Linked DNA regions of Homo sapiens. The protein of the gene in region 1 purifies or fractionates together with the protein of each later gene. This does not show direct contact. Each region holds a gene or a part of one and is shown in the gene's direction. Other genes may lie near its edges.

What was found. The genes of interacting proteins can lie anywhere in the genome.
Region 2: the proteins of NPR1 (region 1) and PARL purify together in Homo sapiens (affinity purification with western blotting; one study listed by BioGRID). This does not show direct contact.

What each region holds. Positions count from the first base shown.
Region 1 is NC_000001.11:153,684,615-153,689,529, forward strand, and holds part of NPR1 (atrial natriuretic peptide receptor 1 precursor), read left to right. Parts: intron 1-349; coding exon 350-470; intron 471-1,191; coding exon 1,192-1,266; intron 1,267-1,508; coding exon 1,509-1,586; intron 1,587-2,031; coding exon 2,032-2,136; intron 2,137-2,401; coding exon 2,402-2,473; intron 2,474-2,585; coding exon 2,586-2,742; intron 2,743-2,975; coding exon of another isoform or gene 2,976-2,998; exon of another isoform or gene 2,999-3,019; coding exon 3,020-3,175; intron 3,176-3,438; coding exon 3,439-3,607; intron 3,608-4,338; coding exon 4,339-4,485; intron 4,486-4,573; coding exon 4,574-4,697; intron 4,698-4,838; coding exon 4,839-4,907; intron 4,908-4,915. UniProt on the Homo sapiens protein: Receptor for the atrial natriuretic peptide NPPA/ANP and the brain natriuretic peptide NPPB/BNP which are potent vasoactive hormones playing a key role in cardiovascular homeostasis.
Region 2 is NC_000003.12:183,842,804-183,847,718, reverse strand, and holds part of PARL (presenilin-associated rhomboid-like protein, mitochondrial isoform 1 precursor), read left to right. Parts: intron 1-3,392; coding exon 3,393-3,488; intron 3,489-4,915. UniProt on the Homo sapiens protein: Required for the control of apoptosis during postnatal growth. Essential for proteolytic processing of an antiapoptotic form of OPA1 which prevents the release of mitochondrial cytochrome c in response to intrinsic apoptotic signals.

The sequences.
Region 1 (4,915 bases):
CTCTTGACCTCATGATCCACCCACCTTGGCCTCCCAAAGTGCTGGGATTACAGGCATGAGCCACTGTGCCTGGCCTCATGTTCACTATTTCTTTTCATTCTTATAATAGTTAAGAATGAAATAGATATTGCGGCCTCATTCCCAAGTAAGGACATTGAGGTGATTCCCCCAAGGTCCCCAGTAAGGCAGAATTTCCCCCAGCCATCCTGATTCTCAGTCCAGAGGATAGAATTCCCCCTCCATCTCTGAGTGCATGGTGTGGTCCCACGGCTCTGAGGAGGGGCTGCTGAGCACCCTGCCCTGGGTCAGCGGCTCAGCCACAGGCTCAGATGCAGCCTTCGTATCCCAGGAAGATGCAGCTGGAGAAGGAACTGGCCTCGGAGCTGTGGCGGGTGCGCTGGGAGGACGTTGAGCCCAGTAGCCTTGAGAGGCACCTGCGGAGTGCAGGCAGCCGGCTGACCCTGAGCGGGGTAAGAACGCTGGTGTTTGTGTTGGGGGGCAATAAAGGAGAGGTGGGTACAAGGGGCAGTGCCTGAGGGATAGGTAAGGGAGCAGGATTCTAGTCCCAGCTCTGCTTTCACTTGCTGTGTGACCTTGAGCGACTCATAGTCCCTCTCCGAGACTGTCTCAGATGATGATTACAGCAGCAGAGCCTCCCTCACAGGGCTCTTTTAAAGGTCAGAGGAGATAGTACCTGTGAAAACACTTTAAAAAAAAAAAAAGTAAATGAGGAGGAAATTTTATGATGTGGAACATAAAGCAGGGTGGGCCAGGCACAGTGGCTCACATCTGCAATCCCAGCACTTTGGGAGACCGAGGCAGGAGGATTGCTTGTGCCTGGGAGTTCAAGACCAGCCTGGGCAACAGAGCAAGACATCGTCTCTACAAAGAATACAAAGATTAGCAGGGCATGGTGGCGCATACCTGTAGTCCCAGCTACTCTGGAGGCTGAGGTGAAAGGATCATCTGAGCCCAGGAGTCTGAGGCGGCAGTGACCTAGGATAGCACCACTGCACTCCAGCCTGGATGACACAATGATACTACATCTCAAAAAAAAACCCAACAACAAAAAGGAAGGGTGACACAAAGATAAGGCAGGATAAGGCAGGGAAATAAAGACCAGAGCACAAGCAATCAGGATGCAGACTGGGCCCACCGGCTGACCATTCCTCCTGCTCTCCCTCCTTTCAGAGAGGCTCCAATTACGGCTCCCTGCTAACCACAGAGGGCCAGTTCCAAGTCTTTGCCAAGACAGCATATTATAAGGTGGGCCTGGGGAAAGATCACTGGGCCTTGGGACTGGGGCAGGAGTGTACTCTGATGGAGGACTGGTGGGGGGTTCTGAGGGAAGGAGTAAGCTGGTGGGGAGCAGCAGATGGGGGCCCTGGGGGTGGGCTATTGGGAACAAGTGAGGGTCCTGAGGGCAGGGATGGGCTGTCGGGAGCAGCTGGAATTCCCAGGACATGGGACCATGCTCTTCACAGTGACAGTCTCCATTCCATGCCCAGGGCAACCTCGTGGCTGTGAAACGTGTGAACCGTAAACGCATTGAGCTGACACGAAAAGTCCTGTTTGAACTGAAGCATGTAATGTGGGGAGTGAGGCAGTGGCATGGAGAAGGGGCCCTCGGGGACGCAAGGGAGACTGGCCAACAGAACTAGTTATGGAGGGACCTCAGGGTACCCCAAGAAAGGGGCAGGGACTGGAGCCCTGGGATGGACCTTCATCTTGTGGGTGGGAGTGGGGGTATCCTAAGCTAGGAGAAGAGACCACTGGAGATAACCTGGAGGAATCTTGAGGGGCCATATGTGATGTCCCTGGGGGAGAGAGGGCTTAGGATGCAGAGGGAGTAGGAGCAGATTCTGGGGAGGGTGGGCTAAAGGACATGGGTGGGAATCACCAGGGAAGATCTTAGTGATGGTTGCAGAAAGTGAATAAGGAGTTAAGAAGAGTGAGGGTCCCTGAAGCTAGTGAGCAGCTTGGTGAGGAGCGAGGTCTCTGTCAAGCTCCTGATGCTGGTCCCACTTGCAGATGCGGGATGTGCAGAATGAACACCTGACCAGGTTTGTGGGAGCCTGCACCGACCCCCCCAATATCTGCATCCTCACAGAGTACTGTCCCCGTGGGAGCCTGCAGGTGAGGGGGACAAGGGGTGTCAAGAAACCTGGGTTCTAGCCCTGGCTCTGCCCCTGACTGGCCATAAGACCCCAGGCATGCCTCGCCCTCTTTCTGACCTTTCTGGCCCCATCTGTAAAAATGGGAGTTGGGGAAGGGCAGTGGCACTAGAGTCAATCCAAAGTTTTGTCCTGTTCTACCAGTTCACATCAGTAGGACCCTGCACCCTCCTCCAACTCCCAGGGGGATCTGCAGGGGATTGGTCTGACTCTTATTGCCCCAGCAGGACATTCTGGAGAATGAGAGCATCACCCTGGACTGGATGTTCCGGTACTCACTCACCAATGACATCGTCAAGGTATGCCCCTAAGCACCTATTGGATGTGTAGAGCAGGGGCCAGGCATGCTTCTCCTGGCCACGGGTGTAGGTCCCACTCCTGGCCAATACCTCTGCCCACTCACATTTCCAGGGCATGCTGTTTCTACACAATGGGGCTATCTGTTCCCATGGGAACCTCAAGTCATCCAACTGCGTGGTAGATGGGCGCTTTGTGCTCAAGATCACCGACTATGGGCTGGAGAGCTTCAGGGACCTGGACCCAGAGCAAGGACACACCGTTTATGCCAGTGAGCCTTGACTCTTGAACCTAACACCTGCCCCCAGCACCACCCAGTAGGGAGACTGATGCAAGGCCTCTGATGGGCTTGGGCATGCTTGTCCTGACTCCAGCCTCAATTCATTCACCCATGAAAAAGGGAAGGCCAGACGAAGTGGTTTCTAAGGCCTCCTCTAGCTCTAACACTCTGTGATGCATCCAGATCAGTTTCGGCCACACCCTTGTTTCCCCCTCACCCCTTAGCTTTGGGCTCCCTCACTCGGTGACTACCGACCTCTGACCCACAGAAAAGCTGTGGACGGCCCCTGAGCTCCTGCGAATGGCTTCACCCCCTGTGCGGGGCTCCCAGGCTGGTGACGTATACAGCTTTGGGATCATCCTTCAGGAGATTGCCCTGAGGAGTGGGGTCTTCCACGTGGAAGGTTTGGACCTGAGCCCCAAAGGTGAGAGGAGCACACCTTCCTTAAACCCAGCCACAGTCTCAACGAACCCCAGCCCCAGGGAGAGGGTCCCCTGGCAGCACCACCACACCTTCCTTCTGTAATGGGGTTCAGTCACCACCCTTTGACCCATTGCTGCCAGTGACCAGTCCCCCGCCCCCATGCCTTGGTCTTGGACTTCCCCTGCCATCTCAGCTGGTTGCCCCAGTCTCTCACTAGGCCCTTGGCCAGCCCCACCCCTCAGCTCCTCTACCCCCCCAATACAGAGATCATCGAGCGGGTGACTCGGGGTGAGCAGCCCCCCTTCCGGCCCTCCCTGGCCCTGCAGAGTCACCTGGAGGAGTTGGGGCTGCTCATGCAGCGGTGCTGGGCTGAGGACCCACAGGAGAGGCCACCATTCCAGCAGATCCGCCTGACGTTGCGCAAATTTAACAGGTCCCTGGTGTTTGTCATGGATCCCCCAGGCCCTTCCTCCACAGCCACCATTTACCTAATGCTTCTGGCTCTGGCTTATCCCAGCAGTGGCAGAGGGAGACCACTCACCTCCTCCCTGTACATAGTCAGCTCCAGCTCAGCACAGCCTCATGACCCTCTTCGCAAGTACAGCATGACTCAGCTGTCCCCACAGTCCCCTGCCATTCATGCCCCTTCCCTCCACCATCGACACCCCACACCCTTCCTGCCCACTCGCCTTGCTGGCCTCTAGACTTCTCAGCAGTGTGTAGGATAGATGGGCCTCCCGCCTCCTGCCCTGTAGGCTCTTGGCCCTCCACGGGAGCTCCTGCCCCACCCCTTGATTTCCCTTCCCCAGCGTGCCCACCAGGCCCAGTTCCTCCAGACACACCCTTCTGTGGACATCACTTTGTCCGCAATTGACCCTTGTCATTCTCCACCTCCTTTACCTCCTTCTAACTCACTGGGTTCAACAAAGATGAACAAAATGTCCATATGTCTGAAGCTTCATACTTGACCTTGGGGTCTCAGAAAAGAATTGAACTTTCTTCCTTCTGTTTTCCCCTGCTCCCCGGTATCCTGCTATGCCCTCAACCCTGAGCGTCTCTAGAGACCTCACTGCAGTCTGGAGGGGGAAGTGCCTAGGGGCGGGCGCTCACGGTAGGCTGTGCTGCTCCTCTCTTACCACCCCCACCGCCACCCTCTGCCCCCAGGGAGAACAGCAGCAACATCCTGGACAACCTGCTGTCCCGCATGGAGCAGTACGCGAACAATCTGGAGGAACTGGTGGAGGAGCGGACCCAGGCATACCTGGAGGAGAAGCGCAAGGCTGAGGCCCTGCTCTACCAGATCCTGCCTCAGTGAGTGCCTGAGTCTGGGGACCCCCCCCAACACAAAGCCCCTGTCCCGACCCCCAACTCTGATCCTGCACCTGCCCTGACCCCTTAGCTCAGTGGCTGAGCAGCTGAAGCGTGGGGAGACGGTGCAGGCCGAAGCCTTTGACAGTGTTACCATCTACTTCAGTGACATTGTGGGTTTCACAGCGCTGTCGGCGGAGAGCACACCCATGCAGGTAGGCCAGGGTTCAGCCACAGGTGCCAGGCAAGCTCAGCATCTGGATCCCACCAGACCTGCCTTCTGGTTCTGCTTTACCCACCTGACCCCAGGTGGGGTCCCCTACTTCCTGTCTCTCTTAGCTTCTCTTCCCTTCCAGGTGGTGACCCTGCTCAATGACCTGTACACTTGCTTTGATGCTGTCATAGACAACTTTGATGTGTACAAGGTGAGGGT
Region 2 (4,915 bases), on another chromosome or scaffold:
GACATACTTAGGATTCAGACTTGAAAAGGCCATTCTCTTTTCACCATGTTTTCCATTTGCTGGTTCACTGTGTGACTGCTACATTTCATCATGTTTTCTCATTTCATCGTCACTCAGCCCTTTTTTTTCTTTTTATTTATTTATTTATTTATTTTGAGACAGGGTCTCCCTCTGTCGCCCAGACTGGAGTACAGTGGTGCAATTTTGGCTCACTGCAGACTTGACCTCCTGGGCTCAAGCAATCCTCCCACCTTAGCCTCCCAAATAGCTAGGACCCAAGCATGTGCCACCATGCCCAGCTGATTTTGTTCATTTTTTTGTAAAGAGGAGGTCTCACTATGTTGCCCAGGGTGGTCTCAAATTTCTAGGCTCAAGGGATGGATCCTCCTGCCTGGACCTCCCAAAGTGCTAGGATTATAGGCGTGAGCCACCACACCCGGCCCGTTCAACCCTTTCAGGTAGATTTTATTATTCTCATTTTACAGAAGAGGAAACAAGCTGAGCGGTTAGGCCTCTTCCCCAGGTTATAATGTAAGTAGGACAGAGTCACTTCTGCTGGACTCCTTCACCCATACTTTTAGCCAAAATGCAGTACTGCCTCAGTAGGCCTAGGATTGCCACACATCCTCTCATGCTCATCCGCTTCTGGGGACCAGCATATGCTGTTTCCCAGCAAGGAAGCCGTTTTTATGTGGTGTCTGAAGTCCTAGAGTGACCAAGGTCAAAATAAATCCTCCTGGCTACCCATGTCTTGATGTATAGTAGAAAGAGCACTAGATTAGGAATTCTGGCTTGGCCACTGAATTTGGCCCTCTGACAACTTGTACCTTTTAGAGCCTGTTTTTCTCATCTATAACTGGCCTTCAGAATAGGGTTTACAAAGAAGAAAGTATGTGCATTTCACTTTTCTTATTTCTTTTAAATTTGTTAAGTGTGTCTTATGAATTTATAGTGGTTCACGTACATAATTTGTTAATAAGTATACATATATGGGATGTGTCTGTTACTAATGGATGGTGTTTACTAATGGGGTGCCCCATGAAAGCAGTTTGATGACCACTGGCTTATGAAGTAAGGGATTTTGGCTACAGTCTGTTTCAGTGCCAGTACTCATTATTTATCAGAAAAGCTTCTTGCGTTTGGATTGAAAACTTAGCAGTGTTAACTCTTTGTCTACTGTTAACCTCAATGTCTTTGGTTATCTTTCCCCCCGCTTTTTTTTTTTTTGAGACAGTTTCCCTCTTGTTGCCCAGGCTGGAGTGCAATGGCGTGATCTCGGCTCACCTCAACCTCCGCCTCCTGGGTTCAAGTGATTCTCCTGCCTCAGCCTCCTGAGTAACCGGGACTACAGGCATGCACCACCACGCCCAGCTAATTTTGTATTTTTAGTAGAGACGAGGTTTCTTCATGTTGGTCAGGCTGGTCTCGAACTCCCGACCTCAGGTGATCCGTCCGCCTCAGCCTCCCAAAGTACTGCTGGGATTACAGACGTGAGCCACCGCACCCGGCCTTTATCTTTCATTTTTTTTCATGTATTTTCCTTTATTTTAATCACTTTATCCAGAAACATATCCTCGTCTTGACAGTGCTGTGGTGCCTGTGGTTTCCAGAAGCTGGGTGTGCTGTGTGTCTGTGGTTTGAGGAAGTTGCCCATGGAACTGACAGAGGAAGCAGAGTAGTCGTTGCCATTTTTCAGCCTAGTAGGCAGGATCAGGGACCCCATCTTGCTCTCTTTGCCTTGAACCACAATTAGAATAAAACACCAAAGCCCTGACTGATCATGATCATAGCAATCCGATCTTTATGATCATGGCCAGACCATTCTCAGGTCGTCTTTACCCTAAGATATCAATCACTGGGTATGACAACCTAGACCTAAGGGTGCACTCTGGGTAGTAAAGATGATTAACTCTCCCAAAGGAATCTAAGGAATCCAGAGCAACACGAATCACTGCTCTCTTCCTATAGGGTAAACCTCCCAAGACTCCAGTCCCTGTGAGGAGGCTCTGCCCGCCTGCCCTTCCCAGGGTTCCAGGCTCCACATTGGGAGGTGTACACAGTGCTCTTCGCTCTTCATTGCCTTGTGTATGATCCCTTTTCCCATCTTTGCATAAATGCTGTCCCTCTCACCATCTTTAAAAGAGTTCTGGGTAATTATTTACCAAAGGTGGTATAATGCTGTCACAGTCCCTGCTAGTGAGACATCTGATACAACTGATGGAATCAGTTCAACAAAATGCAGTAAAATTTTATTTAATGTACTACGGAGAAAGAAAAAATGCTACCAGTTATAAGATGCATCCTGATTTCAGATATTAAAATGGAAAAAATGTCTTAAGATCTGTGAAAAATGTAGCTTCCTTTCCCACCTCTCAAGTGGGAGAGCAAAAACTGGACAGACTAGAAATGCCAGGGGCTAGCTGAGAACCTTACAGAATGAGCAACTGCGGAAGCCACAGGTAACACCGAGATGTAGATCAGCTGCCAGGGACAAGACAAAGAATGTTTTCTAAAGTAAATCCTCTTACCAGTATGTTATTGAAATCAGTCCTTATTGGCATCGAAGAAGGTGAAAGTGCTACTTGCCTGTTGCCTACAGAGACTGGAGGAATGACAAATGTTTATTTTAATTCAACAAGTAGAGGAATACCTGCTATGTGAAGGAGTTGTGGCAATTCATAAAATTAATATATTTTTTGAAGTTTGTAGTTTTCAATAATAATTTCTTATCTAAAATGTAACAAGTTAATTATATTATCGAATAAACCTCAATTTCGTAGTACTAACAACATCAACACTTACAGAAAAAGGAAAGTCACTCAACTCCCACATGTAAACAGACTTTAGAAGCAGTTGCAGAGGTTTTCTAAATTATCCCTGAATTCCTATCACATGACTATTTTTCTCAGACATGTTGACCTTCACCTACACAGATGACTCACATATGTTTCCATAAGCTGGCAGTAAGTTTAAGAAGCATACCATGCCCTGAGGAAAAAGAAGTAATGTTAGCTCTTCTACTCTTGGCCAAAGAACCTAATTCTGTATATTACTTCTGTCTTTGGTTTGGCTATTATAGACAATAAATTATTGATCTGATTATAATTGAGAAAAGTAAGCTCTTCTAAAGAAGTAAAATATGGATCTAGGGAAAGGAAGTTAGCTCCCAGAGCATTTACAATTTCCCAGGAATTCTGTGACTTTACCAACCCTAGGCAGTGCTGATACTTTAAAAGCATTCATTTCACTTGCTTTTTTTTGGCTCACCCCCTATCCCCCAGGTATACAGTACTCTTACATAATTGTGGAAGAATCTTACAAGGGGGTAATGTAGATCAGACTTTCCTGCTTTCATTTTTAACCTCCCTAAATTATAAATATTTATTTTGTAGGTATTATAGCTGCAAATGTCCTTGTATTCTGTTTATGGAGAGTACCTTCTCTGCAGCGGACAATGATCAGATATTTCACATCGAATCCAGCCTCAAGTAAGTCTAACTTGTGTGAATTTATTTTAAGGTAGAAATAATATGAAAGAAATATGCTTTAGTTAATGGAAGTGCTGTAAAAAAGACGAATTACCTATCAATAGCTACAAGCAAAATGCAGAGGATAGGCTGTAAGCTCCTTCACTGAGGACAGGGACCTCACCTCTCTTTTTCTTTTTCTTTGTTTTTTTTGAGACGGAGTCTTCCTCTGTTGCCCAGGCTGGAGTGCAGTGGTGCAGTCTTAGCTCACTACAACCTCCACCTCCCAGGTTCAAGTGATTCTCCTGCCTCAGCCTCCCTAGTAGCTAGGATTACAGGTGCCCGCCACCACACCCAGCTAGTTTTTGTATTTTTAATAGAGACAGGGTTTCACCGTGTTGGATAGGCTGTTCTTGAACACCTGACCTCAGGTGATCTGCCTGGCTCGGCTGGAGTGCAGTGGCGTGATCTCAGCTCACTGCAAGCTCCGCCTCCCGGGTTCATGCCATTCTCCTGCCTCAGCCTCCTGAGTAGCTGGGACTACAGGTGCCCGCCACCACGCCCCGCTAATTTTTTTGTATTTTTAGTAGAGACGGGGTTTCAACATGTTAGCCAGGATGGTCTCGATCTCCTGACCTCGTGATCCGCCCGCCTCAGCCTCCCAAAGTGCTGGGATTATAGGCGTGAGCCACTGCGCCCGGCCAATTTACTTTTTATTTTATTTTATTTTATTTTTTGAGACAGGGTCTTGCTCTGTTGCCCAGGCTAGAGTGCAGTGATACGATCTTGGCTCACTGCAACCTCTGCTTCTCAGGCTCAACTGATCCTCCCACCTCAGCCCCCAGGAGCTGGGACTACAGGTGCATGCCACCATGCCCAGCTAATTTTTTTTGTTTTTAGTGCAGATGAGGTCTTGCCATGTTGCCCAGACTGCTTATTTTTTTCTAATCAACTTTTGCCATAAGGACAAGTTGCTTTCATTGAACTGAGAGTTTTTATTGGTTGCTTACTAAGTAGAAAAGAGATTTATTAAGACAGCTTTTTGTCACTTTTAAAAATGATGTCTTAAGCTGGGCATAGTGACTCACATCTATAATCCCAGCACTTGGGGAGGCTGAGGCAGGTGAACTGCTTGAGCTCAGGAGTTCGAGACCAGCCTGGGAAACATGGTGAAACCCCATCTCTACTAAAAATACAAAAATTAGTTGGGCATGGGGTATGTACCTGTGGTCCCAGCTACTCAGGAGGCTGAGGTGGGAGGATCACTTGAGCCCTTGAGCCTCAACTTGAGGAAGTTGAGGCTGCAGTGAGCCAAGATCGTGCCACTGCACTCCAGCCTGGGGCGACAGAGCAAGACTCTCTCCAAAAAAAAAAAAAAGTCTTAAAAATAGCTGTTTTTGTTTTCCATGTTTGTTTCATAAATTTTTTTTTTTTTTTTTTTTTTGAGA